Regions from separate parts of the Homo sapiens genome. Here region 2 is linked to region 1. Evidence: fine-mapped expression QTL. A gene starts in region 1. The other region holds a variant in brackets. All regions are shown on one strand. Distances are between the middles of the regions.

Region 1 (16,026 bases):
TAGTTCTTCAAAATGGATTAGATATAGGGATGGTAAGGATGAGCTAGCAGGAAAGAAGTAAAAGGAAAACCACAAGACTGGGTAATACAGTCAGCTAACATATCCTTGTCCAGAGTCTTAATGTTACCCTGCAGCCATTGTCACATCAGATGAATAAACTGCTCATCTTACAACAGAAGAAAGGATTAACTTTGGTTAAACTGCAAACTACATGGAATGGATATTCCTCTGATCTTAACAAAATCTCCGCCATAGTGAAGATGTGAAAATCAAAAATTAATGTCCTGCAGCCCAACTTTGTCTACCCTTGGCCAAAAGTGGGCACTGATAAAGAAAAAAACAGCAGCCTCCACATTCCAGAAACTTATCTGAGACTCATAACTAAACCTCAGTGTTATTACTAACCGATCTGATGCTTAACAGCTAAGGCATATTGTTTTCTTGGACATAAACAATCTCACAGAACATCCATTTCGGACAAGGTCCCTGAGCAATACAAAATACCAAACATTCCCCTCTCCAGTTAAATGAGTGACTGATACTTCTTTACCAACTACAGCTTTCCCCCTGCTTAGGTCAGCCCTCCCTGTAAAATTTATTAAGAGGCCGAATCATAGAATTGACCTCACTTTCTGACAACACTCAACCTAAAGCAAGGCTTCACTTCCTTAGACTCTTTCCCAAATTACCCAAATGAATAGGTTCCTTCTAACATCCTCTGATACCCTAAAGTGTGTGTTTTCCCTGACTATTACGGACAAAAACCCAACTCGTGTCAGGATGCCCATATAAGAGAATTCCAAGAAGGAAAAAGTGATTTAAAAAAATATACCAAATAGATGAGCAAAGAAAATATCCACTAAATGAGTTATATTAGGAGACTAGGGAGACTGTTGGGGATTTTAGGAGAGCAGTCTCTACGAATTCAGATGGGCAACAGCTAAGAAATCTGGAGTTTATCTTGTAGTCAATGGAAATTAGTGAGGGAGGCAATGATCAGCTGCAGTATATAGGAAGAAAATTCTAATGGCCAGAGGGAACAAACTGGGTTAGGAAGAGGCCTGAGACAGCAAGATTAATTTGAGAAATACTCATCAGGAGACTAAAGAAGACAGACGGGAGAAGGGTGATATCAAAGATTTTCTGCTTGTGACTTTCAGTGGATGGTAATTTAACAGGCCAAAATAAGGATAAAGAAGGCATTAAGACGGGAAAAGAAAAAGATAAATGTTTACGTTTCAGACTTCAATGGAATTCCCAGGTTGATATGACCTGTAGGCAGTGCCATCTCATTCCTTTATTCAACAAGTATTTTGAGGGCACCAACATAAGGAACTCTACTCTGCAAACACAGTGATGAGTAACACAGTCTGGAACTTACACTAGGTATGCACTAGATCGATAGATACCTTGCACTCACAATAACTCTCACCACAGCCTCTCCCATCATACATAAACACAATTTTACTCTTGCTTCCAACCAGAAATCTAGTTGATATGGTCAATTTTATCACTCAGTACACCAATTACCTTTCAGAGATCCTGCACATACACCACTGCTATTTCACTTTTCCTCAGTTATTCCTTAGAGTGCTATGAATTAAGTTGGAACAGTTTTTTTTTTTTTCTTTTTGAGACAGTCTCCCTCTGTCACCCAGGCCACAGTGCAGTGGTGCAATCTCTGCTCACGCAACCTCTGCCTCGCAGGTTCAAGCAATTCTGCTGCCTCAGCCTCGCGAGTAGCTGGGATTACAGGTATGCACCACCATGCCCGGCTAATTTTTGTATTTTTAGTAGAGATGGGGTTTCACCATGTTGTCCAGGCTGGTCATGAACTCCTGACCTCAGATGATCTGCCTGCCTTGGCCTCCCAAAGTGCTGGAATTACAGTCGTGAGCCACCACACAAGACCTAAATTGGAATAGTCTTAATATTGTTCATGTAAAGAAATCTAATTTTTACTAATCTTTCTTCCCAGTTTTCTCTGTGAGGTCCCTTCCTCCTCTTTCTCAGTGGTGAGCCCTAATCACTGCTGATAACCAGTTAGCATAGTATATATCAAGAAAAAAACATCAAAGTAAAATCAAGAAAGTTACTGCCATCAACCTTCTAAGTATTTTTAAAAGTGCCCAGAAATCACCTTCTTAATCTCTGCAAATCTATTTCTTCTGATTAAACCTGCTTTTCTCCAAGCACAAGTACTTAAGATAATTTCACTATTTCCTGTTATGTTATTGTAAATGCCCACCCACACTGTACTTTCAGCTATATGATAGGATCTCTAAGGTTCCTTCCAGCTCTGAAAACCTGATTCCTTAAAAGGCTTGAGTTTTTTTTACAAGCATTTTAAACAGTTTCCAAAAGAAAATACCGTCCAATATCCAAAACACTTAAATAAATAAATCTGGTAATATAAACCTTTATCAAATTGGGAAAAACTTGCATTCCAAAATGGGGTGAATTATTTTAAGAAGATTCTATCAAGTGGTATTTAAACAAACAGTTTAGTTGATTTTACAATGGTTTTCTGGAGGTTCCTAAAATCCCTATATAATGGAAATAAAACCCAATTCTACTTAAACAAGCACCTACTGAGAACCCACATGGCCCAGAGCCAGACAAAGAGAACGATTCCGTTTAGTAAGACAAGGTCCCTATTCTTAAGGAGTTCTGTGGACAATATCCATCCAGCTACAGTCAGGTTATCTATTCCCTCTTCCCCAGTGAAGTTTTGTATCGTGTGCTTTACATTTTCACTTTCTATCTAGAGTTTCATTTTCAACACCTGGCTCAAATCTCTCCATGGACATGAATCTTCTTGCTTTAATATTCTCTGCCACTTAATGCCTGACAATTACATATTGCCCTGGGTTATTCATCTTTTTACAATAGTGTCTTAACTATTCAACAAGCATGTAGATTTAGGGAAAGTAAGCACCAGATCTTAAACTTTTTGTAGTCCTCAGGAATTATTAAAAGCATCTTCTAGCATGAAATATTCTATAAGCCTAATTTTAGAGGGAAATGAAATTTAAGGCCTGAATCTTAACATCCACTAGTCTAAACCCTGGAGAAGTGACATAGCTGGGTGGTCAAGAGTTCATGTTCTGGGGGTAAAGAGATCCTATAAGTCCCAGACCTACTATCTAACTGACCTTAAACAAGTACTTAATCTCTCCAAATCTCAGTTTCTTCAACTGTAAACGAGATTATTATTATCCTCTTTTACTAAAGTTGTAAGGATAAACAAAAATCAAGCTCACAGTAAGCATTAATATTAACTATTATATATAGAAAGATAATGATATTTTCTTTAGCTCTTGATTCCTTGGAATATTTTAAATCAACTGGTGGTTGAAGAATATGAAAATAAAAGAAGTGGCTGGGCACAGTGGCTCAAGCCTGTAATCCCAGCACTTTGGGAGGCCAAGGTGGGCAGATTGCCGGAAATCAAGAGTTTGAGACCAGCCTGGGAAACATGGTGATACCCATCTCTATAAAAAAAATTAGCTGAGTGTGGTGGTGCGCACCTGTAGTCCCAGCTACTCTGGGGGCTGAGGTGGGAAGAAAATCGCTTGAGCCCAGGAGGTTGAAGCTGCAGTGAGTTGAGGTGGTGCCACTGCACTCCAGCGTGGGTGACAGAGCGAGACCCTATCTCTAAAAAAAAAAAAAAAAAAGAAAAGAACTTAGTTACCTCAACCTACCAAATATTCAATATTAATATTCACAAATGGAGTGTCACATGGTTCATCCACATTAAAGCTTTCACTCTGGTATCAACCGAATCCCCTATCTATTGGCTACATTATAAGGTTTACTCTTTATTCCTTTATGGAACATGCATCCCTAGAGGTCCTTAAAATAACTATATACACTGGTACAAATGTTTTCTGGCAAAAAGTCTCAGTACACTCCAGAAGTGTTTCTTTTAGGGAGGAAGTGATGAGAAGCACTGTTCTAAGGTACTGTCCCAAGGAATGTTTCTTCATTTTTCTTCTGAAGGTTTTATTTGAATTGGCATTCATTAATAACTTTTCACTAAACCGAGGCTAGTAAGTAACAGGCACTATCCTAGTAATTAAGACACACAAATGCCTCCTCCTTTTTTTAATAAAAGAGCTCCTAGTCTCCTTTTTTTAAAACAAACAAACAAAAAACCCTGCATGGGTGGATGCGGTGCTGGCCTGTAATCCCAGCACTCTGGGAGGCCCAGGCGGGTGGATCACGAGGTTAGAAGATCGAGACCATGCTGGCGAACATGGTGAAACCCCGTCTTGACTAAAATACAAAAAATTAGCCAGGCGTGGTGGTGTGTGCCTGTAATCCCAGCTACTTGGGAGGCTGAGGCAAGGGAGTTGCTTGAACCTGGGAGGCGGAGGTTGAAGTGAGCTGAGATGGCGCCCCTGCACTACAGCCTGGCGACAGAAAAGACTCCATCTCAAAAAAACAAACAAAAAAAACCAAAACAACAACAACAACAAAAACCCTGCATATGGCAGAGTTCCTAATCTCAGCATTTCTCATCCTAATGCTTCCCCATTTCTCCTAAGTCTTAATATCTCATTTTTAAATAATGCACAATACTAAAACACAAAAGAAATATTACAATTTTTCAATAAATTGAGCCTTAATAGTCCTACAAAAAGATTCTTTTAAAATGCAGAAATTTCCAAATTTTTAAGCCTGCATTCATTTCTTTACCTTCTCTGTATTAATGAACTATGTAATTATATAAATAGACCTGAAATTTTATGCCTATAACAACCTTTTGTAATTAGTCATGTCCATGCCTCTCAGAAGTGAAAATGTAATCTCAAATTAAATAGCTTGCATAAGATCTTACAGTTCATAACAAAGAATCACACATGATTAGAACCCAGATCTTGTGACTAGGTCAAATTCTCTTTGGATTCTACCATGAGGATAATAAAATTTGCTCTTCATTTTGGCAGCATTTGTTTCTTCTCTCGTCCTTAGTACAGGCAGAGTGCTTTGCACATGTTGGTCATTCCATAATGTTAACCTTGCCCTCAAGATCCTTCTAGTGCTAGGTATTTTTAAAATATGTAGCCACAAATCTTGGTATTTAAGCCAAAATAAATAAACTTCTAATGAGAACAAGGCATCATTTTTTTAAAAAAGAGCAAATTAAAATAAATGCCTATACTAAAAATATGCAGAAAAAATTTCAAAATTCTTGACTCCAAACGCTCACTAATTAATTATTAAATGTCTGTTTAAACTAAACATATAAAGTGCTTTAGTTCCAAAGACTTGTTTATTAACTAGATGGCTACAGCGCATTATAAAAATGTTTTTTAGAAGACAGTTGATAAAAATATCTTAATGATGCCAAATTACTGGAAATCACGTACTGCTCCTAAATATACCTTGTTTAGCATTCACCAACTATTAGGAATATATCAATATTACACTAATCCTCCAGGAATTGTTTTGATTCAGTACAACCAAAATTCATACATAATCTTTACCAAATTCAGCAGTGACTGTCATTTAGTATCAGAGCACTATTTCTTTCATGTAATTTATTTAAGAAAAAAACAACTAGGTATGTACATGTTATCTTTCTTTCACAGGAAATTTAAGAAAGCAAGCTTCAGTCAATAATCACATGTATGGTATCACCACATAATTTCTTTAGCCTTTCTAAACTTATACAGGAGAATGACTAGTTGAACAAAATTGTATTATTATAAAGTGCTACCTTCAGACTGAAATTGACCACAATCAGAATGAAATTTACCACCTTTACAGGATGAGCCAAACTGACAGCAATGGGGAGGAAATCACGCCACACACCTCATCCATTACTTGAATTGGAAGCAAGCAAAGCCCCAAAAATCAAACGGCATTCCAATCCGTAAAACAACACAAAACCTTTATTTCCCCCAAGAATCTTAATTTTGGCCCTAGAACTACACAAATCTAAAACACACAAAACAAACATGTCACCTCCAAAAAGTTACAATACTAAAATTTTTACCATTAGCGAAATGATTTTTAAGTTTTAAATACATTTAAGAGCTGCCTAGGTAGAAATATTTTTTAAAGTAATACGTGGTTTTGTGGTCATTGATTATTTTAATAAGCCAGTATATCAATTTAATCAGGAACACAATTACTACTTTTTCATGGTTCTCCTTTCACAAATCCGAAAAGTTCTTCCCAGTCCACACGGTTTGGACACATTTTCAAGTGTTAAAACATATTGTTCATACAAAACAAACAAGCTCTTTAGTCACAATTTTAGTTGAAGACTATTTGTTATTTCCTTTAAAATGCACCCAAATTACAACCACTAAGCATTAGAGAACAAAACAGGTATAAGGAAATAAGCGATTTTTTTTTCTTTTTTTTTTTTTTTTTAGATTGAGAACTTATTTGTGAAGAGATGGGAGGCGGGAAAGAATGCAACAATCACCGAAGCGTGCAAGGAAAAATAAAAACAAAGATAACCTGTAAAAATATAACAAATCTTCACTATGCATATTACAACACTTTGGAACCAACAGTACCGATCTCCTGAACAGAACTGCTGTAATAAAGCTTCATATTCACCAGGTCCGTATTAAACATCTCTTCCTTTTGAAGATCCGTCTGCTATGATTAAGATCCAGCAATCCACCCCTTTGGCAGTGATTTTGGATATGAGGACATGAGACTGAAACCCCGAGTTCCTAAGTTGGTTTTACCTGACAAGAGGAACTGACAGTGATGCTGGCGGGAAAACCCTATGAGCGAAGTTTCCTCCATCCTGGCTCCCCTCCCCCTTCTTCCCACCTTCACGAAAATTAATAATCCACAAAAGAACTATGTATCAGCCAAGAGCGCAAAAGTTCATCATTCCACCTGAATGCAGCAAGGCCCACGCGCACCTGCGGGCAGAGAGGAGGCTGCCGGGTCCCCGAGTGGGCAGCAGCTTGGGCCCCAGCGAGCAAGGCGGCCTAGCGCCGCAGGATGGCAAGCGAATAGGCCCGGCGCCCGGTCTCCCGGCCTAGAGCAACTCCCTTCTCCACAATGGTGGGTGGTTTAGCCCCTTCGCGCTACCTGAGACGCAAGAATCGCCTCCTGGTGGGGCAGGGAAGGATGTGGGGGCGCTGAGACAAGCAAACGGGGCCTAGAGACCGCGGCGGGCAACTGCCTAGGAGAAAGAATGGGGGGAGGGGGTTGCAAGAGGGGAGAGGAAAGGGGCTCCGCAGGGATCGGGAGGCCAGCGGACCGGTGGGCTGGAGACTTCGGGGCAGAGAAGCTACCGGCTACGGCCGAAGGGGTGGGGCAAGGCCTGCGTGACGGCCAGGGCCGCGGCTGCGAGAACCCCGAGGTGGGGTGAGGGTCGGATCTCGGCCTCACCTAAAGTCCTTGTCGCTGGATGTCATTTTTTCCAGCAAATTGGAAATGTGGTACGAGGCGCTCGCCATGTTGACGGCCTCGATCCCGCCTGCTGGCGCTGCTGGAGCTGCTGCCCGCTGCCGCTGCCGCCGCCGCCGCCGCCACTGGAGCTCCTCCTCTCGCTCGCGGCGGCTCCCGCTTCCAGGGTCGCAGCGCGACGCCGACGCTGACTAGGGAGGCGCCTCGACGGGCTGCCCCCTCCCTGGCGAGGCGTGGGCCTGTCCCGGGGTAAGCCGAGGCTACAGAGCCAGCCTAACGACGGCGCTGTTCGCGTGAGAACGAGCTCATGGGCGGCGGGGCGTACAGAAGGGCCTCTACGGGGAGCCAGACACTTCCACTCAGGGCCGTCTCGCTCCCACTCGCTCCGCACTCGCTCCCTAGGGCAAAAGGCCAAAGCCCGCCTCCTTCGCTCCGGGGGCGGGGGCGGCAGACGCGGGCGCTACGGAAAGCTAAGGTCAGAGTTCACGGAGGCCTCCCCACGCACGCTGTGGAGAAGAGAGTTAAAAAACAATTCGGTTGGCTGAAGCCTGTGTCAGTTTTCATGTGACCCGCCTTTTGGAGGCATGACAACACAAAAAAAAGGGGCTGTTCTCGCGAGACTCTAAAGCGACGGTTAAGGGACAGGGGACGAGTGGAGCAAGTGGGCCTTAATCTGAAAATAACTTGATTGTTTAATGACATTAAGAGAAAAAGATTACGAGCTTTGAGAAGGAGGAAGCCTGGGAGTAACGACAGTTAAGGAGTTAGCTTGCGGAACCAACATAAGAATTTATAACAGGGAGGTGTCGTTTGGGATCAGACGCGTGGCCTGCATTGCCGTAGCCACCGTGGTGTAATGTTGCCACGTAAAAACCACAAATCCCAGAATTCAGTCGGGTGATACACTGGCTCAGAATGTGATTGGCTGCGGGAACTAGTAGCTTCCTCATTGGCTCCCGTGGAAGGAGTGAATGCTGGGATTTGCAGTCTGATGGGGGAGCCGTGCTGGGTAAAAACCTTAGAATCGTCGCGCACTCCGTTTCTGCCGCGGATTCTTATATTCTCCAATACAGGCTTTTTCTGTTATGCAGTATTTGCAGAGCAGGCTGCTGCAGTTTGGCCAGGCGCATTGCGGATCAGTTGGTGTTCTTGCCAGAGGCCTAGCAGCAGCTTCCTAGCGCTACTACTTGCACCTCCCAAGGCAGCTGAGCCTCCCCACTTCTCTGGCCAGACACACTCCTACCGTGCATCGTAGAACCACCTCTCTGACGCCAGCAGGACCTTAGTAAGAGTAATGGGTATGCGACAGATGGCTGTAGTCAGGCCCTACTGATTTCAAAATAGCTAAAAGACTATCTCTGTAGTTAGCTTTTGTGGCCTTGATGGACCTGCAGCTGTGTATTGCTCCCTCAGACGTACAAATTCGTGGAGATGAGTTATGAAAGTATTTAGTATCCAAGTTTTTCATCTGCTTAATATTTGGGATTTTAAACACAAGTTTTGCCAGCTAGGGGTCAACATCCCTGAAAGTGTTAGGGATGGAGCTAGCTGACAGGCCTTTCTAAAAGAACAGAGAGCCTGGTGAAGAGATGAAAAATCAATCTCACTTGATACTCCTGTTAAAAACAACAACAAACCTTTAAATAGCTCTCTACTAACACATAACTCAAATCCGATCAAATCTACCTGACCTTTACCATTGTTTTCTGTATTCATCAACTATTACTGAGTACTTCAAAGTCAGGCAATAGGAGTTAATAAAACAGATGAAACTTGGTTTAGCCTCATAATATGTGTTTAAATTTCACACATACCTCTGATCTGCTCTCATGTATCCTTCTACTTGAATGTATGTAATATAAAGGCCGGGTGCGGTGGCTCATGCCTGTAACCCCACCACTTTGGGAGGCCGAGGCGGGCAGATCAGGGCATCAGGAGTTCGAGACCAGCCTGGCCAATATGGTGAAACCCCATCTCTACTAAAAATACAAAAATTAGCTGGGCATGGTGGCGCGCCTGTAGTCACAGCTACTCGGGAGGCTGACGTAGAAAAATTGCTTGAACCCAGGAGGCGGAGGTTGCAGTGAGCCGAGATCGTGCCACTGCACTCCAGCCTGGGCGACAGAGTGAGACAACGTCTTAAAATGATAATAATAATATATACGTAATATATGATATTTTTTCTCCCCAGTAATGCCATATTTCATTTTACCAATCTGCCATGATTAATATATCTTTCATCAAACTGTCCTTAGTGCTTCAGCCACAATTAATTGCCTTTTGCTCTGAATAGCCTTTCCACCATATTTAATGTAAAACACACACACACACACACACACACAAAGAAGCAGGTCTTTTTTTGTATGTGTGGACCTCAAGGCCTCAGTCATTTGGTATTATCAATAATACTTTCTTTTAGCCTGTGTCCACTCAGAAAGCAAATCATGGTTTGTCTTTTTCTGTGTGTAAATTCTTTCACTTTTGAATTTCCAGCTGAACTATAATATTTGGAGTCAGATTCCTTAAATATAAATCATGTTTACAGCCACTTACTTGGTGTCATAGGCAATTCATTTTCATCTTTCTCAACTTCAGTTTCTTCGTGGGTAAATGATGATCAGGATATTACCTCAGGTTGTTTTAAGAGTTAAATAACTCCTAACCTCAGGTGATCCACTGGCCTCAGCCTCCCAAAGTGCTGGGACTACAGGCATGAGCCACCACGCCCGGCCCAGCCAAATATGGTGAAACCCTTTCTCTACTAAAAATACAAAAATTAGCTGGGCAGATGATAAGGAGAAAATAATGAATGTCAAAGGAAACGTAATTCCTCCAGTGCTGGTTGTCTCAACTGCGATTGTTGTGGTTTGGAAATGTATCAACACCCAAGAAGGCTCTCTCTTGTGGATGTATCACTTAAAACACCCAGAAGTTGTTGACGGCGGCGGGCAGAAGGGCCGGTGGTTTCCAAGCTGCTTCAACAATGGGACCCACAATCCTCAAGCAGAGGAAGAAGAAGACATAGACAAAGAAAAAGAGAAAGAAAAAAGAAAAGAAGATGACAAAAAAAGAGCTTCGGCTATGGAACTGGTTTAATCCATACGATCGCCCAGAGGTGCTGACGGTGACCAGCTGGAATGAGCCGGTTGTGTGGGAAGGCACTTAGAACAGAACCATCCTAGAAAATTATTATGCCAAACAGAAAATTACTGTGGGTTGACGGTTTTTGCTGTCGGAAGACATGTAGAGTATTACTTGAAGGAGTTCATAGCATCTGCTGATAGGTACTTCATGGTAAGCCACAAAGTCATGTTTTACATCATGGCCGATAATCCAGGATGCTGTTGATAGAGCTGGGTCCTCTGCGTTTCTTCAGAGTGTTTGAGATCAAGCCCGAGAAGAGGTAGCAGGTCATCAGCATCGTGGGCATGAAGACCAACAGGGAGCACATGTTGGCCCACATCCAACAGGAAGTTGACTTCCTCTTCTGCATGGATGTGGACCAAGTGTTCCAAGACAATTTTGGAGTGGAGACCCTGGGCCAGTCCGTGGCTCAGCTATAGGCCTGGTGGTACTGGACACATCCTGAGGAGAATACTTAGGAGAGGCAGAAGGAGTCGGTGGCATACATTCCATTTGGCCAGGGGGATTTTTATTACCACGCAGCCATTTTTGGTGGAACACCCATTCACTTTCTCAACATCACCCAGGAGTGCTTTAAGGGAATCCTCCAGGACAGGAAAAATGACCTCGAAGCCAAGTGGCATGATAAAGCCACCTAAACAAGTATTTCTTCCTCAACATACCCTCTAAGATCTTATCACCAGAATGCTGCTGGGATTATCATTATAGGTCATCATGCAGATATTAAAATTGTCAAGCTATCTTGGCAGCAAAAAGAATATACGTTGGTTAGAAATGATGACTGACTTCAAATTGTGCCAACAGTTTTTTGAATTTGAGAGAATTATTATTCTGGCTACTTCCTCAGAAAACAATTTTAACTTTAAGAAAATATTAATGAAACACCAACATTGCAATCACATACTATCTCTCCTTGTAACTTTGAGCATTGTAATATGAGAGAATGAATCTATGGTAATCAGGTGTAAATTCCCAGTGATTTCTTATGTATTCTGAATTTGGGGGAAATACTATCAGCTGAACCAGAAAGAACTTGTCATAGGCAAAGATAAAGCCAGAAACAGGCCAGGCACGGCGGCTTATGCCTGTAATCCCAGTACTTTGGGAGGCCAAGGGAGTGGATCACCTGAGGTCAGGAGTTCGAGACCAGCTTGGCCAACATGGTGAAATCCCGTCTCTACTAAAAATACAAAAAATTAGCCGGGCATGGTGGCGCACACCTGTAATCCCACCTACTCAGGAGGCTGAGGCGGGAGAATCACTTGAACCTGGGAGGCAGAGGTTGCATTGAGCCAGATTGTACCATTGTACTCCAGCCTGGGCAGCAAGAGTGAAATTCCATCTAAAAACAAACAAACAAAACTCTACATGTGTCAGATAACATCCTGGAGAAAATCAGGTGGTAAGGGAAGTGTTGGCAGCGAGATATGGTTGTAGGGGGTTATACCCTTGATTCCAATGTTTTCCTGTTTCCGATGGATCTAAAGAACATGGAGTTTTTATTTGCAGCAGGGGAACTTTCAGTAAGGACACCGTTTGCCTTGGCAATCCTCAAAATACTTCAAGAACAGATTGTTTCAGACCATCTGTAGTCCATTCTTTTCTCATCAGGATGTCATTTGGTTTCTGTGTGAAAGTTTGGTGGAGATTCCCAGTAGATATTATGATGGTGCATGGTCAGAGTCCCAGGGAACCTGAATGAACCAAGGTGCTCAATGTGAAGTGAAAACAGCCTCAACATGAGTGCCATGAAATAGCAAAGAGAGAGTGCAAGAGAGGGGCTGATCGCTGTGGGGCAGTGCCACCTTGCAGGAACACATGCCATGAGGTTGGTGCTTAAATACATCATGGATCCAGGCACTGAATGGGAGGCAGTATGGGTGATTTCCAGCTTGGTTGACCCCATGACTGACAAACAGCAGGGACTTGAATGGAAGATGCTTCTTGTTTTGCCCAAGTTGTATTCGGTCTACCAGATTCTGCAACTTATGTCTTCAGATCCTTGGTGAGGAGATATGGATGCTGTCAGAGAAGGCAAATGCCTGCAGTGGATCGAAGAGGTTTTCAAGGAGTTCCATTTCCAGAATGTGGCTTCATCAGAGGACAATGGATCATCAGCTAGTCCCACCACTTAGCTATTCTGGAACTCAGGGTTCCTGTGCCACTCATACCCCAACTTGGAGGGCTGACATCAAAGAGTAAACTGAAGAAATCAAGTAACCTCTCATTTTTCATCTGCACTATGGAAGTGTAACAACTAGACGTGTAACCAGCAAAAGGGTTCGGCCATTTGTTTATAGAAAGGAGTCAAAATAATAATGACATGTGAAAGAAAGAGAGCAAGACTTTACTACTTGTGTTAGCAAGGGGAAGAATGGGTGAAATTTTAAAAAATTTCCACTCTTCCCTTTGTGGAGGGAAGATAGAGATTTTTAAGGAGAGAGGGGTTTGGAATGTAGGAGAGGAAGTGGGTATGAGGTGGCACGGTTTGTTTTAATGACTTATTGTGAATTGTTGTTTTATTTGGTGAAGGCCCTGGTGTCATTTTGGGCTTTAATTAGGTTACAAATTAATTGCAGTCAATTTTATGGTCAATTTTTGTTTTTTCTTGGAGATGGGGTCTCACTCTGTCTCCCAGGCTGGAGTGCAGTGGTGTGATCTTGGCTCAATGCAGTCTTGACCTCCCAGGCTCAGGTGATCCTCTCCTACCTCAGCCTCCCTAGTAGCTAGGACCACAGGCATGCACCATCCAGCACAGCTAACTTTTTGTATTTTTTTTTGGTGGAGATGGGGTTTCACCATGTTGCCCAGACTAGTCTCAAATTTCTGGGCTCAAGCAGTCCTCCCACCTCGGCCTCACGAAGTGCTGGGATAACAGGTGTGAGCCTTTGCATCTGGCCTGTAGTCAGTTTTTAGCTGGGATTGAGTTTCAGCCTTGACTGGGGAGAGAATTTTGGAGGTGTCTGGTTTGTGTTAGGATTTGGCCTTTGACGTTTTAATGGAAATATATGACTAGATATGTCAGTGTGGCATGTACTTAACAAGGATGTAAGTAAATAAATATGCATAACGCATGGGAGTATAGTATGGGAAAGAAGGGGAGTGGCGATTTATAGTACATTTTGAGGCTGTATTTTAAGGCAAAAGGAAGCAGATATATAGTTTGTCTAAAGTTATATTTTGAGATTGGGAGAAGGGAGGAAAGAAAACATTTTGAGGTTGTAAAATACATTTGTAGTTTATTTTCAAGTTATATTTTGAGGCTGGGGAGAAAGTTGGAAAGGAAAAAAAGTTTTAAAATGCAGTTTGAAGTTAAGCTGTTTGGTTGTAATTTTTATTGTCAAATTTTATTTTATTTGTATGGAAAATGGCTGCCATAATTGTTTTGGCTATTTTTTTGTTGAGAAGGGGCATAGTTTGGGGGTATTAGAATGGAATTGATTTATTTGGATTTGGAAATATTTATGAGTATTTGGGCCTATAGACAATATTTATTGGAGTGTTATAGTTTGAGGTTTAGAAAGTTTTGGGGAAAGTCTGTCTTACAGTTTTACATAGAGGGTATAATAGTAGTAAGTTTTATAACACAGGGATATATCTACCCCTGTAGGCCAGGCCAATGTTATAAGTAGTTTTTGTCTCTAACATGGTCCTGACTTGAATTAGAATGTCCCCTATTGATTTAGTGACAATGTAGGGTCGCACATAGATTTAATTTTTTGGTGTATATTTTGTAGGGCTATTTGAGGCATTTTTGAATTTTTTAATTATGTAGGGTTTTTATTGTTAATTGTAATTGGATGTGATGACACGTTGGCTAATATATATATTTAATAGGCTGTAAATAGGGATATGAATATTTATGAAGGTGGCTTTAAGTCTTGTTTAGTTTATGAGGGTGGATTAGTTTAGTTAGTTGTTTTATTTAGAAGGTAGTATTGTACATGGGCTAGGCCTTTTTATGTGATGAAGGCAGAAAAAAGTTTATTAAGAGGCATTTTTATGGAAATAGAAAAGCAAATATTAATGTTGGAAACTATTTGGATGTTAAAGTACTTTTAGTTATAGAGGAGGAAGGCAGTAGTAATTTGACGTTTTCTTTGTCTGTGTTATAAGGAATAAGCTTTAGTTTGTAAAGCCTCAGGAAAGAGGTAGTAGTAATTTTATTGAGTTTAAGTTAGAAAAATAAAAGAAAAAAATTGAAAATATTAGTTTGGAAATTTGTACTCTAGAAAGAATTTAGGATTTAGTTAAAATTATAGAAAATAATAAAAACTCAAAAACAGTGGATAAGACTAGAATTTAATTACAGGTGTATTATAGTTAGGTTTTTTTGAAACTTTTTTTAGTTTTTGTTTTTATTAAAGACAAATTATAATAGGACAAATTTATAGGCAAAATAAGTTTTAGTTTTATTGTATTTGGCTTGTGTATTTGTGTAAAGTCAGTAAGAATAATTATTTGTCATATAGGCTTTTTTAAAAATTGGCTTTGTTGGAACTTTGTTATAGGGAATTTTAGATTAGATCTTTTGAAGTTTTGAGTCCAGTCATGGGTTTATTTGTGTCTTTAAATATTTGTATTAAATGGGCAAATTTTTTCTTTTGAGGTCTCAAGAAAACTTGGGGCTGTGGTTCCTGTTAGAAAGTGACACTTTTTATTTGTTATAGGTTAAGAATTTTGTATAGACACTGTATAGACAAGGTATGAGGTTAGTTTTTTAAGGGGCTTTTATTGGCTTTATAGGTTAATTTTGATATTTTAAAGTAGTTTGTAAGTATGTTTTTTAAATTAAAATTTTGGTAAAATAGTGTTTTTAATTGTGTTATAAAAGAAAATAGATTTTTATTGAATTTATGTAAATAATAATATTGTTATAAATTAAGTATATGTATAAATAGTTTGTAAATTTTGGAGAGATTAGCTAGAGAAAAATATGTCTTAAATTTTCTTTATAGGAGTGTATTTTATCTGACTGTTGAAAGTTGTCAATAGCTAAAAAGAAAAAGTTTTTTGGACTTTGTAAAACAGAAGAATTAACAGTGTTTTAAATAAAAAGTTATAAAAATATTTTTTAATAGTATAGTTTATGTAATTAATTTCTGTTTTGTTTGATATGTATGAACACAGTAGGTTTTATGGGAGTCTTGAATTTTTTTTATTTTACTGGCATAATTTTTAAAGTTATTAGATATTTGTATTTAAGAGTATTTATTAGAGTTTTATAGTTGATTATAAAATTGTTTTGAAAATAATTAAAACAATTGTGGATGACAAAAGTTTTAAAGTAATCATGGTTAAAGCTTGGTTACTTTTGTGGCACATAATAACTTCATATAATTATTATCGATATATATTGAAACAGAATTATAGGAATTTTATATAGTTTTGGAATATATATTGACAATATATTTATGTAAATATAGCTTAAAGAAGAAAGTCAAACACTATTTTATCCTTAACAATCTTTTTGTATAATTTTAATACATTAAA
Region 2 (16,026 bases), 88 kb before region 1:
TCTCAAATGATTTTTTTCCTTTCATTTCTTATAGCTCAAAGCAGAGAATGATGGAAACGATGGGAACACTTCCCCCAAAAGTACCAGCAGACCTTGGCTGAGACCTGTCTCTTTAGATGAAGTTAGGTGAGGATATTAGGGGAAACTAGAACCTGTTCTTATCTTCTTGAAATATCACTTGCAGAAAATAAGCATTAACTCCACTGAAGCACAGTGAGAATTTTTCCTCAAAGCCTCTTCACACCCTGCCTTAATTATGGCCTCACTGATGCTCTCTGGGAAAAAGTGTTTTGGAGTAATTAGAACTGCCAACATCAATAGTGCCACCAGAAATGCTGGTGCCAGACCCCCCAGGTGGTTTGCATGTCAAGAATGGCCTCCCAGATAGCTTCTTCTCCTAGAAATGTAAATAAACACAGCTGGTTCTCTTTCACACTTGAGATAAGCCAAGAGCTCTGAGTCCAAATCCTCACCTCCCTGTGGGTGGAGACCACCTCACCTGGCCAGAACAGTCCCAGGCCTCTCCAAGACCATTCCCCCTTGGCTGCTGTTCTCAAAGTTTTGCCCCTGGCTGCTTTACCACTCCTGACTTAATGTAAGGTCAAATCTTACATTCATTCTCATTCATTTTATCAGTGAGTCTTTATTCCTCAGATACCTCCATTCTCTTTTCCTTGTTACATAACCAGTACTTTAGAGAAATACAGAGTAGCTGGGTTGAACATCTTGCCCACAGGGAGTTACTGAAGCTCTAGGAGTGATGAAGTCTTCTTGCTTTTGTTACTCTCGAGGTTGCCTCACCTTTTCCCCCTTTTCACTTTTCCAATGCCTCTTCAACTAGTTTCCATAATAAATGCCCTCTACTGCCTGGCATGGGTTCTGTTTTCCAGACTGGATGCTGACCATTGCAAATAAGCCTCAGCAATGGTTGAGTTCTCCAGGTTTTTGCTGATGTTGAAGAACAAATGATGGGTTCAGGACACACCACACCAAAATATGACTGCGGGAGATCAGAATATGCCACCCTAAAATGTGCCTTTTTGGCATATTGATTATTTTGAGCTGGTTATTCTGAGAAACTGCAGACACAGAATGTCTAAAAAGTTACCCTTTTTAAGAGAAATTTACATCAATAAAGAAAACTTCCATTTGTAATGGTGTTTCCCTCTCTGCACCAGAAAGAAAAAGACAACTAAATCTCGAGACTCAATCAATGGTGAAGGCATAACAAATCTTACTTTTGTTTAACCTGCTTTTCATGGCCATCTCCTCTTAATTTGGCCTTTCCTCCCAGCCTCCTGTAATTTGCCTCCACTCTTGTCCCCCAACCCCAAATCTCTATTCTTTTCTGTAGTTCCAGGTGACACATAAACCTTAATCATCTGACAACTTCTTTAGGTATCATACTTTTGTGGGACTCCCATGCACATAATTAAAATTGTTTTCTTCTGTTAATCCTATGTCAATTTAATTTCTACACCAGCAAGAACCTAGAAAGGTAGAAGGAGGCAATTTTTCCTCCCCTGCAATGGTTTTGCCTGGCCCTCTACAATGTATTCAGGTCTCTTGTGTGTCTTCTAGCTACTGTGATCTGTTTCTATCCACAGAACACCAAACATTGGTGAGGGGAGGAAGGTCTCACACTAACCAATTCTCTAACTCTCAGGATACCAACTAGGTGTCCTACAATTCAATTATGACACTATGTACCTGGAGCTAGCAACAGATTCCATAGGTTAAGGGCCCAGCCCCACGACAAGGCTACCCTCATTTTAGATGCCAATCCGAAGTTCAGACCTCCCATGCTTCTGACCAACTGGCTATAAATCAGGGGTTCCCATTTTGACAAATGGTCATTTTTAGGTGCTCAAAGTTAAAACAGAACCAGGCAGCATGGCAGCGTGAGGGAGCAGTCAGGTACTCCGTGTTCTCAGAAAGATATTGTAAAAGTACCATAGGACCTCCCTTTCTAAAATCAAGCCAAACTAGTTCCTGTTTTTGGTACCAAGATAAACTGTGGCCCAATACACCCCTACTGGCTGTTTGAAAGAAACATCTGACAGACTTCCAGTGTGGGGCTTGGAAGCCAACCAATCAAATATCAGCTGTGTCAACCAATCAGGGCTCAGCTGTATTGACCAATCGGAACTTAGCTGTGCCAACCAATCAGAACTAAGCGTGTTTCAATCCTTCATTCGTATGAACAGACCTAATTGGGAACCTGGGCCGGAATTTTGCTATAAAGCTCAAACACTCTCTTTGCTCTCTGGAAGGTATCTTCCTTTTACTCCAAAGGCTGCTTCTGCCAGTTTGCAAACTATTTGCTGAAAAAAAAGTCTCTTTCCTCCAAATTCCTTTTTCAGAGAACTTTTTTTCACAGCTCCTAGCAAAACTCACAGAACTCAGGAAAACACTGCTTACATTCACAGGCTTATTCTAAACGATACAACTCAAGAACAGTCGCATGGAAGAACTGCATTAGGCAAGGTATGTGGGAAGGAGTGCGGAACTTCCATGTTCTCTCTGGGTGCACCACCCTTCCAGCACGTCACTGTGTTCATCAACCTAAATGCTCTCCAAACACTGTCATTTAGGGTTTTTATGAAAATTTCATTATGTGGGCATGCTTGATTAAATCATTGACCATTGGTGATTGACTTAATCTCCAGCCCCTCTCCCCTCTTCAAAAGTCAGGGGGTGGGGCTGAAAGTTCCAGCCCTCTCATTATGCCTTGGTCTTTATGGTGAGCAGTCCCCAGCTTTCTAGGGGCCCCAGCCACAAAACATCTCATTACCATGCAAAAGACAGTCATCACTGTGGGGATTGCAAGGGTCTTCAAAGCTTGGTGTCAGGGACCTGGGACTAAGACCAAATATTATAACAAAAGATGTTTCTATTATTACACCTATCATTCAGGAAATTACCAGGATTTTAGGAGCTCTGTGCCAGGAACTGGGGGTGAAAGCCAAATATATATTCTATATCACAATATCACACTGGCCTTCAGGAACACTGAGCTGACATCCGCTATTACAGGCTATGATTCCAGTCATTTGCTTCCATTTAACAGGTCCTCAAATTCTTCATTTATTTCTTCTAATCCCCAGCCCCTGATGGTACTCCAACCTCTGAGTGTCTCCAAACCCTCTCACTGGGGCACTCAGGGGCTCTGTGATATCCTGCAGGTTGTGGTTGCCCAGAGCCTCAGGCTCATCTCTCTTTCCTGTTATCTCTGTTTCTCTCTCTCTCTCTCTGAACCCCACTCTATCCCATTCTACCCCATTGCCCTTTCACTGTTTGAGATATGGTGCCATTTTAAATGCAGACGCTTGCATTCTTCCCCAGGCTCTTGTAGAGGAAAGAAGAAGAAAACCTTTTTTCTTTACCCACCTTAGGTTTTCTGGCTGGGGCCATATAAATTAGTCTTGCAAAATATTAAAAAGAGAAAAACAAACATAAGTTTAACACATGCATGTACACATGGGAGCACCCAGTGATAAATAACCCCAAGGGATGGTTAGAACTTGGGCTTGTATAACATCTTAGGCTAAACAAAGGAAAGAAATTTGAGCTTCTGGGTGGTCAAGTTATGGGAAGGTAACCAGGAAAAGTATAGTAACCCAGGGTTTTTTAGTAAGGTTTGTTATAAAGATTTAAGTATGTACCTTCTCCACTGATAAGAGTTGTTAAGAATCCTACTCTTTCTGCTATGATAGAGGGAGACACCTTTTACAAATGGAAACTTCCTTTATAAATGTAACTTTTCCTTTACAAAAAGAAAACTTGTGCCTTGTTTTTAGAGTTCTCCTTACAACTGCCGGTTCTCAATGGCTTTAGTTCAAAATAACTCATATGCCAAAGAGGCATATATTGGGGTTGTGTATTCTGGTACCCTCTAATATGTTTATGGAAGTGGGCCACTACTACCAATTTCATTACATTCCCTCATGCTTACACACGTGTTTCTAGACCTCACCTCTTACCATGGTTCAACCCTAAGAGAATAGGAGAAAGCAAGGACACTGACACCTCCTTCTTTCACTCCCTCCCTTCTATCTATCCTTTTCTCCTTCATATTAGAAGAATCTTGTTTTATTTCTTTATCTTGTTTGTCAGGGCCTTGACTCCAATTATTTCCTTCTCCTCAAATCATTGTTTATACTCACCACTTTTCTGGGACTCACACTGACAGAAAGGCTGCAAGAAAACATTTCAAGTTGGAAAAGGAAATGAAAAATACATTCATTTAATATTTTAATATACTCCCCTCACTCCATGATCCATCTACTACATCTCTTTCAAATGCCCCTCAAAGGACATTTATTCTATGTAGGTCTCTTCTCTTTCTAAGAAAGTGAGAGCTAGATCTCTGATCTCCATTTATCCTCTAGTCCTGTGCTGTCCAATATGGTAGCCACCAGCCACATGTGAATATTGAGCCCTGGAAATGTGGTTTGTCCATTAAGATGTGCTGTAAATGCATTAGAATACATACCAGATTTTGAAGACTTAGTATTAAAAAAGAATGTGGTATATTGCATCAATAATTTTTATATTCATTGCATGTTGAAATGACAGATATATTGGGATAAATAAAATATATTGTTAAATTAATTTCAGTGGTCTCTTCTTACATTTTAACATAGCTATTAAAAAACTTTAAATTGGCCAGGTGCAGTGGCTCATGCCTGTAATCTCAACACTTCAGAGGCCAATACTGGAGGATCACTTGAGGCCAGAAGTTCAAGACCAGCCTGGGCAACATAGTAAAATCCCATCGCTATAAAAAAAATTTTGAAAAATAGCAAGGCATGGTGGTGCACACCTGTAGTCTTGGCTCCTCAGGAGGCTGAGCTGAGAGGACTGTTTGAGCCCAGAAATTTGAGATTTCAGTAAGCCATGATTATACCATTGCACCCCTGGGTAACAAAATGAGACCCCATACTCTAGGGAAAAAAAACCTTTAAATTACACATGTGTATGCATCTTATTTCTATTAGCCAGCTGCCAGCTTCATGAGACCTAGGACAATTGCTGGTTATTAAGTATTGTACACATGGCTGGTAGCTAGTGGATTGGCCCTGGGGTGGCCATACCAATTGTTTACTGATGTTATTGGTTTTGGCCCTGACATCATGAGTGGTTAAATATTTTTTCTATCACCTGATTGCATTGCCATTAGCTACCACAGTGCCCACATATAGCAATAGATGGATGGATGGATGGATGAAAACACAAATGATACTTTTTCAGTATCTAAAATTTCCATGCAACTCTGACACGACAGATGATTGCATAAATCTGTCACACTATCCAAATTTTCATTCCCTGCCCTATGATCCAAAAGCCTAAACTAGAGTGATCACATTAATGTCAAAGAACAAGAAGTAAAAAAAGCCTCCTGCCCCATCTCTTGCGGGGGAGACTGAATTTCCACTTTCAAATGTAGAATCATATGAGTAACAAGATATACAAGCACAATTCATGTGAGTTTTTCTGTCTCCATTCCCAGCCTAAGCTACCGTGACAAGGCCAACTTCACACAGGGCTGAGCAACAGCTGTTTATACCGAATGACTGTAGAGCCCCAAGAGACACTTCTACCACTAAAATGCCTTTCTTTTCTTCCTTGGAGAGCTCTTCCCTGTTGACTGTAGGGGGTTGAACTGCATAACCACAAAAATTCATGTGTTAAAAGTCCTAATCCCCATTACTTCAGAATGTAAACTTGTTTGGTAATAGGGTTGTTGCAGATCTAATTAGATGAGGTCTTCCTGAAGTAGTGTGGGCCTCTAGTCCAGCAGGACTGGAGTCCTTATAAAAAGAGGAAATTTGAAGTCAGACATGCACACAAGGAGAAGACAATGTGAAGATGAAAGCAGAGGTTGGGGTGATGCAGCAAAAACCACGGAACGCCAGAGGCTGCCAGCAAACCCCCAGATGCTGGGAGGGAGGCATAGAACAGATTCTTCCTCACAGACCTCAGAAGGAACTAATCCTGCCAAAATCTTGATCTCAGATGTCTACTCTTCACAGCTGTGAGACAATAAATTTCTGATGTTAAAGTCACCCAGCTTGTGGCACTTTGTTACAGCAGCCCTAGAAAATTAATACACTTTCTTGATCTAAATCAGACTCCTAGTTCTTCCTCATACCACCTCCTTTGTGGTACTTACCAAATTTGTAAATATTTTTCCCTGTGTGTCTGTCTGTGTAATGTCTATGTCTCCATTTTTCTCCAAGCTCAATGCGACACCAGTGTCTGTTTTGTCCACCACTGTCCACCCAACATTTAGAAATGAAGAGTCCCTTCATAAGCACTTTTTGATGAATACCTGGGCTGTCCGGCCATTGGAAGCAGAAATGCAACTGTTAAAGGACCACAGGCAGCGCTCCTCAGAAAGAAAAGCCAGAATGCAGGATGGTGCACACTGACAGGCTGTCTCAGCAGCCCTCTTTCAACAAGGTAAAAGATGAAGGTGGCCGGGCACGGTGGCTCATGCCTGTAATCCCAGCACTTTGGGAGGCCGAGGCGGGCTGATCACAAGGTCAGGAGATCAAGACCATCCTGGCTAACACGGTGAAACCCCTTTCTTACTAAAAATACAAAAATTAGCCAGGCGTGGTGGCGAGCACCTGTAGTCCCAGCTACTTGGGAAGCTGAGGCAGAAGAATGACCTGAACCCTGGAGGCAGAGCTTGCAGTGAGCCAAGATCGTGCCATTGCACTCCAGCCTAGGCAACAGAGCGAGACTCTGTCTCAAAAATAACAAAGGGTGAAGGTTAGCGCTGACCTCTTTGGCACAGGCTAGTCTATTCAGTTATCTAACTGGATCAGGCAGAGATCAGGAGCCTGAAGTAAGTTCTAGAAATAGAACCCCATTCCCCTGGAGACGGCAGACCTAAAGGAAGCATCACAGCGTGCATGTATTGTTGAAGAGGCAGGAGGAGTGTTCCTCTAGAATGGCAGCAACAAGCAAGCACAAGGAACCAAGCCCTTGGCAGTGGAAGGAAACCAGCTGAAGCAAGACAAGCAGAAATGATCACAGTAGCTACCACTTATTGAGTCTCAAGTGAGTGCCATGCTGAATGCTTTTCTTACATTATTTCATTAAATCCCCATAACAGACTCACCAATAAGTACTATTATTACCATTTTACATGAAAAAACTGAAGTTGAGAGAGGTTAAGCAATTTGCTCACGGGCACACTGTTAATGAATCATAAGCTAGAATTTAAAGCCAGAGATCTGCTGTTTTGATACTTTCCTAGCTTTGCAGCCTTGCATAGAACTGGCCTTGATGACTTTCTTTCATGCTGTGATTACCAAAATCTGAAAAACCTACATGTTTTAGAAAGCATTACTTACCAATAATTGCTTACTGTCTATCTCCACCTATTAGAAAGCAAACGTCTTGAGATAGCAAATGCATACTCAAACTTATTAGGATTTCGATCCAGTGAACAGTAGGAGCTCAAAAATATTTGTATTAGGAATGAATCAAATAAGCACTTATTGACCACCTAGATGTACTTTAGAAGACATTAATGTTAAAAAAAAACTTCATATTAGAAAAAGAACCCTTACAAAACTACTGCACTAGAATGAAGCATTTATCTTTTCCACTTTTCAATTGCGAAGTACTGCAATATAGTTAAAGTTTCTGTGAATAAAAAACTATTCTGTGCTGCCCTATAGAAAGTTCCCACCCTTAGTTTTACAAACTTCCCTTCTCTGTATATTCATTTTCTTCTTCTAGCTGCTTGTGCTCAACTCTCCATTGGATTCTCTTTTGCATACCTATCCCAGTTTTGCTTGCTAAACCAGGAACTTTTTGTTTTAAGAAAATATTCAGGGGCCCAGGGGAGGGATAGCATTAAGAGAAATACCTAATGTAAATGATGAGTTTATGGGTGCAACAAACCAACATGGCACATGTAAACCTATGTAACAAACCAGCACGTTGTGCACATGTACCCCAGAACTTAAAGTATAATTTTTTAAAAAGGAAAATATTAAAGGTAATCAAACAGCAGATATTTTCAAATTAGATAACTCTAAAAGATAGCTAAACCTATTAAGATTAGGCAGCTGTTGATGATAAACCTCAGAATAACTTTCTCTCTCCCCTAATACAGAAATCAGAAATCAACTGGCAGGTGCACAAGCAAGATACCAAATTCCCGTTTCCCAGCCAAGCTCCTGTGGTGAAATTGTTCCTTGGCAAATGTCCCTTTTTTTTTTTTTTTTTTTTTTTAACTTTGCCTTAAGAGGAGGAAAAGCTGCCAAATGCCAACTTGGAGAATAGTGTACAAAATGCTAAATATAAAGAGTTGAGGAATATCAGGGGCTATTTTAAAAATTAGTCTCTAATAGAGCCTGTAGTATCCTCATATGTCTAGGAAACAGCATGGCAGTCATGTTGGTTTACACCAAAAGCAATAATTCTAGGTTCAAAAGCCCAATCTACAACAGCGCTAGTAAATCTCAGTATCTTTCAACTGAAGGCCAACCTATTTAACATTTCCTGCACTCAACAGCACAAACTCAGAAAATGAGAAGCTAAGTGGAAAAACAAGTGATCAGTGGAGTTGAAAGTACTTCTGCTCTCTCTTCAGATATGACTTGGAAGTCAAATATTACAATAAAAGAGCTCACCCAAGGCTCAAATCTTGAATAGTAACTCACGCTGGTCATAAGCTCCACAATGGGAGGCTTTGAGGGGCAAAAACGCATGCATTTTGTACCTTGATATTTATGATGTTCTATCGCCACCTCCTGGAAGAAAAGACCAAGAACGCCAAAAAAAAAAAAAAAAAAAAAAAA[G/AAG]GGTGCTTAGTATTAAGGCTTCCAGTGAAGATAAATTTCTTCAATTCTCAAGAAAGGTAAAGACATTCTGCAGCCGCTGACAGTTCCATTTCAGATGAATTAGCATAATGTTGGGCAAACAGCAAACCTAAAAGGCAAATGTTCAAGACTCTAGCGTCAGTTATTTGCCAGCAAAAGATAACATCAAACATATGAGTAATGAGCCTTTAAAGTTGCCAGTCCCCAGGGAAGATTTGAGTTCTCATTAGTAAAGAGATATGAGATCCCATTTTGCCAGAGTCAATAGCACCGCATGAACACAGAGAGATACTAGAAGAATAATTTCCACACTTGGCTCTGAAAATAATCATCCTTATCTTTGCATTTTAAGTCTCAGAATTTGGCAAAAGAGTTCTAAGGATTTTAAAACATTAATAACAAGACTAAGAATGTTCCCAGATGAACTCTTATTTCTCAGACTATCTTGTTGGAGTTATTTACACATATGGCACAAACAAAGCCAAATGAATTGGAATATTTGACTTTCTCTCCACAAGATCTTACCAGTCTTTGTTTCTCAAGGTTTAGTTTGCATAAGGACAAAGGAATACAGTCGAATACTTAAAAGTATTATTTTAAAACACACTTTTATCTTGATAGTTATGTCTTTTCCATCAATATCTCTATTCACTATGTGAAAAAAAAAAGTCATACAACTTCAGAGTAGAAAGCATTTCAGTCCAACCACTTCACAGTCGCAAATCACAAGCTATTCACCCAGGAGGAAGAGCTGCTAAAGTCAATTCCCACTAAATTTCACCAGGGGCAGTTTAAACCTTCTGTTCTGTCTAGACATTTTGCCCTCCTCTGCCCAAACATCCTGACTTTTAAGGAGTTTTACAGCTTAGTCAACTCACCAACATCCTGAAGTAGGCTGAGATTGCAGATTTCTTTTCTGAATACCAATTATGCTTATTTATAAAACACAGAACATGGAGCAGAGAATTTAAGATTTTAGAGCTGCAAGTCACCTTCCTTTTATAATCCACAAAAGTGATTTGCTGTGATACCTGATGGCCTCTTTTGGAAAACAGAAGGCTTGAACACAGCATTGAAATGTGTCAGACTTTCTTTTTAAAATTTTTTCAGCTTCTTTTGAGGGTATATCCTGTAAAGCACTATGAGAAACATCCGAAAGACACAATTCTTATCCCCCAAAAGCCAATTATGTTGTCTGACTTCGGTTTCCTAAGCTACCCACAAACTGAAAGGCAAGGTATGGTGGTCAAAGAGTAAAGTCGACGTCTACACAGAAGCTTCCCTCTTTCCCTCAGCTCTGCCTCTTTCCAGTGCTGCTCATGTGATATGATACTTAGTCAAGCTTACTTTTTAAGTCAGCCACTTCGTGGGAACACTTTCCGGAGTGATGGCCAGCAGAATAGCTAAACTTTGTTACTGCCAAACCTCTTCTTGAGACAGGAACTCTGCCTACACAAAGCAAAAACAATATTTCAGCATCCCACCCTCCCTTTGAACCCACATTTGGAGTCATAGTTTCAGTTTTCATAACTATCCGGAAAACTGAAATGCTTCACTGGCCCACAACCAAACTCTTGGGCTCTTTTCAAGTCTGCCATCTCCCCCTTTTCATTCCACTTCCTCCCTCACTGTGAAACCTTGCTTGCTTGGACACTCCTGTAGTTTTAGACACCTTCCTGTCGATCTTTGAGCTATTTACCAGCTGAACATTTGTATTGTTAGTGTTAAATGATAAATTCATATAGCTAAGACACTTGACCAAGATAGACCGATACTATCATTTGAGCAACTGTCTCCTGCAATCTGTCATCACAATGAGATAGCCATGTTCTAACCTATCAGTAAGATTATACAAAAGTAAACAGAGTTGTCGGTATAAAATTGATTGTCAGCCGGGCACAGTGGCTCAAGCTTGTAATCCCAGCACTTTGGGAGGCCGAGGTGGGTGGATCACAAGGTCAGAAGTTTGAGACCAGCCTGGCCAAGACAGTGAAATGCCGCCTCTTCTAAAGATACAAAAATTAGCTGGGCATGGTGGCAGGTGCCTGTAATTCCAGCTACTTGGGAAGCTGAGGCAGGAGAATCTCTTGAACCTGGGAGGTGGAGGTTGCAGTGAGCCAAGATCGCGCCACTGCACTCCACAGAGCTAGACTCCATCTTGAAAAAAAAAAAATGCCACTGAGAGGTCATCTTTTATGAAATTCAAAAGTTTCAGAAATGTATCTAAATTGTCACCAATCCTTTCCCTGTAGTGTTCACCAGCCTCTGATCAGTTGATTTTAGGCAAATTTCTCACCTTCCACACTTGCAACACAAACTCAACTTCCAGCATACAGAGCTACTTGAAGGTTTCCCTAAATACACTAGGCACCCTCAGTCACTACACTACATATATGCTCTTGCTTTTTTGCCCAATGCCTGCCTTTTGACAGTCTGAGTAATGCCTACTTGTTTTCAAACTTCAGCTCAGGAGCTGCCTTCGCTTGTCTCATCCAAGCAGTCTGCAGCCCCTTGCTTTTATGCTCCTACAAGACCCTATTTATAACTCCATCACAGTGCCCATCATATGCTGGTAAAATGGTTTGTTTTCCCCTCTCACCTGCCATAGGTTCATTCTGAAAAAAGATTAAGAGTTTGACTCTGCAACCCCAGCACCCCAGGCTGTATCTAACACGTGGTAGGCAAACTGCAAATGTTTGCCAGATGGATGACCATTCCTGATGGCCAAGACATTAAGAAAGGGGCTGTTTTCCAGTGGTCCATAGCACTATGGACAGCTAAGATGACTGCCTCACCAGTTCAGAAGAAGAATAAGACATGCTCTCACTTACTTTCCTCCCTCCCCTTGTAACATGTATCTGGCGTTCTAGACAGCCCCATTTCCCCATCAGCCAAAGTTTTGGACCTATCAAGAATAAATCTTTAATTGAAGTCTATTAGTCTGTTCTCACACTGCTATACCTGATACTGGGTAATTTATGAAGAAAAGAGGTTTAATTGACTCACAGTTCCACAGGCTATACAGGAAGCATGAGGCTAGAAGGCCTCAGGAAACTTACAATCACGGCAGATGACTAAGGGAAAGCAAGCACATCTTACCATGATGAATCAGGAAAGAAAAAGAAGAGGGAGGTGCCACATGCTTTTAAACGATCAGATCTCATGAGAACTCACTCACTACCAGGAGAACAGCAAGAAGGAAACCTGCCCCCATGATCCAGTGACCTCCCACCAGTCCCCTCCTCCAATTCAACATGAGATTTGGGCAGGAAAAGAAATCCAAACCATATCATGAAGCTTTAATTGAAATGTTTGATTCTTCAAATAAATTACTTTCAAGTCAACCCAAGTGGCGTACAACTCTTGTAAACAAGTTTTCTAAATTTTGGTCACATTTTATTAACAAGTATTGAAATTTTAAATCAAGGCATTCAACAAGTGGAAGAACAAAAACCTTCAGCTTGCAAAACTTTTTAGAGAATTAAAGTTATTGAAAACAAAACTTACAGAAGAGCAAATGAAATTTGTCTATACAAAAAAAAAGGATGTGAACAAATGTTAACAATACAAATTTAAACAGGATACAGGATTTAATTTTGAAATTCTATAATTGCACTTTGGAATATTTCAACTTGAAGAGTCTTTTGATGGAGCTCCTACGTTTATTCAGATAAATTGGCATTCTGTTCCAGAATAGAATGGAATAGAGTTGAGAAGTCTACATTTTCACAAAACCTAAATTTGGTGAAATGCTCCAAACAGTCATAAAGACAACGTTTTTCTTCCTTTTATTTTTTTTTCTTTTTTGATTAAACATGTCTTTATTATCAGTATGCCTGATTCTGTGGAAAGCCGACTGGAACCCTGGTCATTCTGACTCTCGGGGCCTCATGTTCCAAGGTTGGCTGCTGCAACTCTCTCTTGAGCTCTACCTGTGTGTACATCTTGGTGATGTCATTGTACCTGCCTTTGGGGGGCTGGTAGTTAGAGACCCATAGTGTATAATCTGGACCTTCCCATTCAAAGGGGAACATGCTGCAGTCCCACTTGATGGTCTCAGTGGGGAACTCAGGGGACTTGAGTGGTAGCTCCTGCAGAGCTTCCTGCTGGGTCCCCAGCACAGCCTTGATGGTGTCCCTGTCCATAGTGTGCTCTCGCTGCTTGTACAGAGACCACTCATCAGAAGCAGAGCTCTCCACTCACTCTCCTCCAAGGAGAGCTCCACCTGAGGCCACTGGCTTGCTTTATCCAAGAACCTCACAAGGCTAATAAAATCTGCAACAAGAATGAGCTCTTGGCTAGCCTTTTCCAGTTTTCATATCTTATTTTTCAAGCAGCCCTTTCCTGCTTGGTCTTTTTTAGAATTCACCTTCTGCTCTCGAAGAGGTTCTGCTCTCACAGGAATGAGTTCGTAGGAGGACAACACTGAAGCTCGCTGGTGGGTGCCTCAAACCTGCTCCAGAAGCCACTGGGTAGGCACATAGTGCATGCCAGCTCACAGCCTAGCACTAGGACTAGTTGGCAGCCTGGCCCTGAGAAATATTGATCTACAAGATTTGTCTTATAGAAGTGCATGTCAAAGAAAGGCATTCCAGATTGAAAGAAAAATATCTAGGCTAAAATGTTTACCCATTTTAATATATTTTAAAAGAGAATTGGGAATATCTTCTATTTAGCCGCATTTGTTGTGAGCTTACTGATTACCTCACCACTGACAGAGAGAATATATTCTCATTAAAAATAGAATTTTCATCTAGAAGTAAATATATCAAACATTTTCCATTTATATATCATAAAATTATATTTTGAAGATTAGAGGCAATTTTATTAAAATTTTGGAACCAAATTAGGGAAAAAAGCATTATTTACTCAAAGAATAAAGAAAGAAAAGAAGGGGAGGAGGAAGAGAAACAATGTCATAGGCTTAAAGGCAGACCAAACTAAGAAACTAAGTAAAATACAGTACTATGTTTGAAGAGTAATTATTACACTTGTGTTTTTTGAAATATTCAATCAATATATCTGCTTTAATAATTTTTTATTTTTTGTTTTTATTTTTGATCTTTGTTTTTTATTTTTGCTTTAATATTTTTAGAGAGACCTTTTAAAACAGTTTTAATGGAATTGTTTTATATGCTTAACAATAACATAAAACCAGTTTGTTGAACAATAAGTAAATATTTCAAAACTCATATAATGTTAATTTTTTAACAACTCATTTTCAAAATTGTACCAGTTTGGTTAGTAAGTTAGATTCTCATCTAAGCTCAAACTAAGTGCAGCCAGCATGGCAACTTATGGGTTGAATGGAAGTTGTTTAGACCACACTGAAGGGTTCTGATTATATCCTGATGGTTGGAGGATGGAACAAGGTGCACGAGCAGAGAGGTAGATGAAGCTGGAAATGCAGATGCCAGGTCCTCACCTGTACTTCATCCAGAGCAACTCAGCCTATATTTTATTTACATATTGAATTTCTGTGTAAGTTCTAATTTGAAGAAATGGTTCCATGACTAAAAATAAGCTTGAGACCACCACTGTGGGCAATGAAGAGTCAGGGAAGAATTTTAAGCAGGGGAGTGACATGATCGTGTTTGCATTTTTAAAAGTCACTCTGGCAACAGGAGGGAAAATGGACACTTATAAAAAATAAACACCTAGAATATGTGGGTTTAGCACATGCATACAATACTTCTTTGCATTAAGATTTAACGTCATGCCTGAAAGGCCTTCTTTAAGACTTTTAAGAAAGTCCAAAATATTGTTTCAAAGCCCCTTTGTACAAGGATCTGCACATTTAATTATGATTAGAATTTCATAAAAAGTTCATTTCTTTAGATGACCTAATTTGATTTCAATTACAAATCAACAAGAACTATATTACATAACAGTGTTTTCATTTTTGACATAGCTGCCTAGATGCTCAGAACTAAAACATTTAACTGCAGCAACTGATTTATTCTAGGAACTCAAAATGCAAATTTTTCCTGTATTTTTTTCTTTGTTTTGTTTTGCCTTTTTAAAATAGCCATTTCAAATATCTTTTGGAAGTACTGACTCTAATAGTAAATAATAATTGTCATGATTATTATTATATAGGGCTTACATGTACCAGACAATGTTCTAAACTCTTTGTATATATAAACTCATTTAATCCTCACCAAACTAAATATGGAACTATCTCTGGCTTTGGAATTTGTGAATTTATTTATAAAACATAGGTGACATCAGAGGACACCAGTTTCCCTTCATCACCAGTATAAACTTACCTAGTAATTTCTGTGCTTAAAACCCATCAAGCATATTTCAAGACAATTTCAAAAAAAAAAAAACTTGGCTCAAAACAACTAAAAATCAAATCACTAGAAGAAATCACCTCTCTGATCTTCCAGTCTTGTCTATGTAAAATACATGTAAAATAATGATATATATAAAAAGGTTGTAGGGAATTCTAATGAGAAAATAAATGTATAAACCATGTCGAAAATTGTAAGGGGGTAAACAAATATGAGTTACTGTTATTCTGAAAAAGAGACAGTAAGGAGTTGTCATTATCTCACCTGTCTCATGCAGTCCATGGGCAAGTCAATCTTCACAACACATTCAGAATCTGACAACTTCTCTGCACTTCCACCCCAACCACTCTTGTCCAGGGCACCATCTTCTTCCACCAGAACCATTGCTACAGCCTTCTATTGGGTCTCCTGCTTCAAATTCTTCCCTTTCACCCAGCAGGTACAGAGATTCTTCTAAAATACAATGCAGATTATATCACTCTTCTGCTCAAAACCCTCTGAGGTGGGCAGAATAATGATCCCTCAAAGATGTCCTGATCCCCTAATCCCTAACCTACAACCCCCAGAACCTGCGAATATGTGGCCTTATGTGGTAAAAGAGTCTTTGCAGATGTGACTAAGTTAAGGATCTTGAGGTGGGAGATTATCTTTGATTCTCCAGGTATAATAACAAAGGTTCTTATATGAGGGAGGCAAGAGAGTGAGAGTTAGAGAAGATGAGCCAAAGGAAGGAGAGGTGGGAGTGGTGCCATTGCTGGGAGGGGCCATGAGCCCAGGAATGTGGACTCTAGAGGTGGCAAGGTCAAAGAACAGATTCCCCCCTAGAGTATCCTGAAGGAATGCAGTCTTGAAATCACTTTGATTTTAACCCCGTATGTTATGAATTG

Direction of the effects. Alleles are on the strand shown, and positions count from the first base shown. SD is a standard deviation of normalised expression in the study named.
As copies of G replace AAG in region 2, the expression in fetal neocortex of the gene that starts at base 7,799 in region 1 goes up (large effect, 1.0 SD a copy in Walker 2019).

The links. PIP is the estimated chance that this variant, and not a neighbour inherited with it, causes the effect.
Region 2: its variant is fine-mapped to the expression of CAND1 in fetal neocortex (Walker 2019, PIP 0.95).

Annotation. Positions count from the first base shown.
Region 1 is chr12:67,261,131-67,277,156 of GRCh38, reverse strand. CAND1 (cullin associated and neddylation dissociated 1) reads right to left here and starts at 7,799. Exons shown (of 15, transcript NM_018448.5): 1 at 7,372-7,799. The coding sequence starts at 7,439. It also overlaps the pseudogene GGTA2P. RefSeq lists enhancers at 7,033-7,684, 7,964-8,223, 8,364-8,663.
Region 2 is chr12:67,348,776-67,364,801 of GRCh38, reverse strand. LOC124902957 (a long non-coding RNA gene) reads right to left here. Exons shown (of 2, transcript XR_007063354.1): 2 at 12,122-15,592. It also overlaps the pseudogene MRPL40P1. Among named protein-coding and RNA genes, the nearest start is that of LINC02420, 86 kb to the left of the region's middle. The variant G/AAG (reference allele first, on the strand shown) is at 8,826.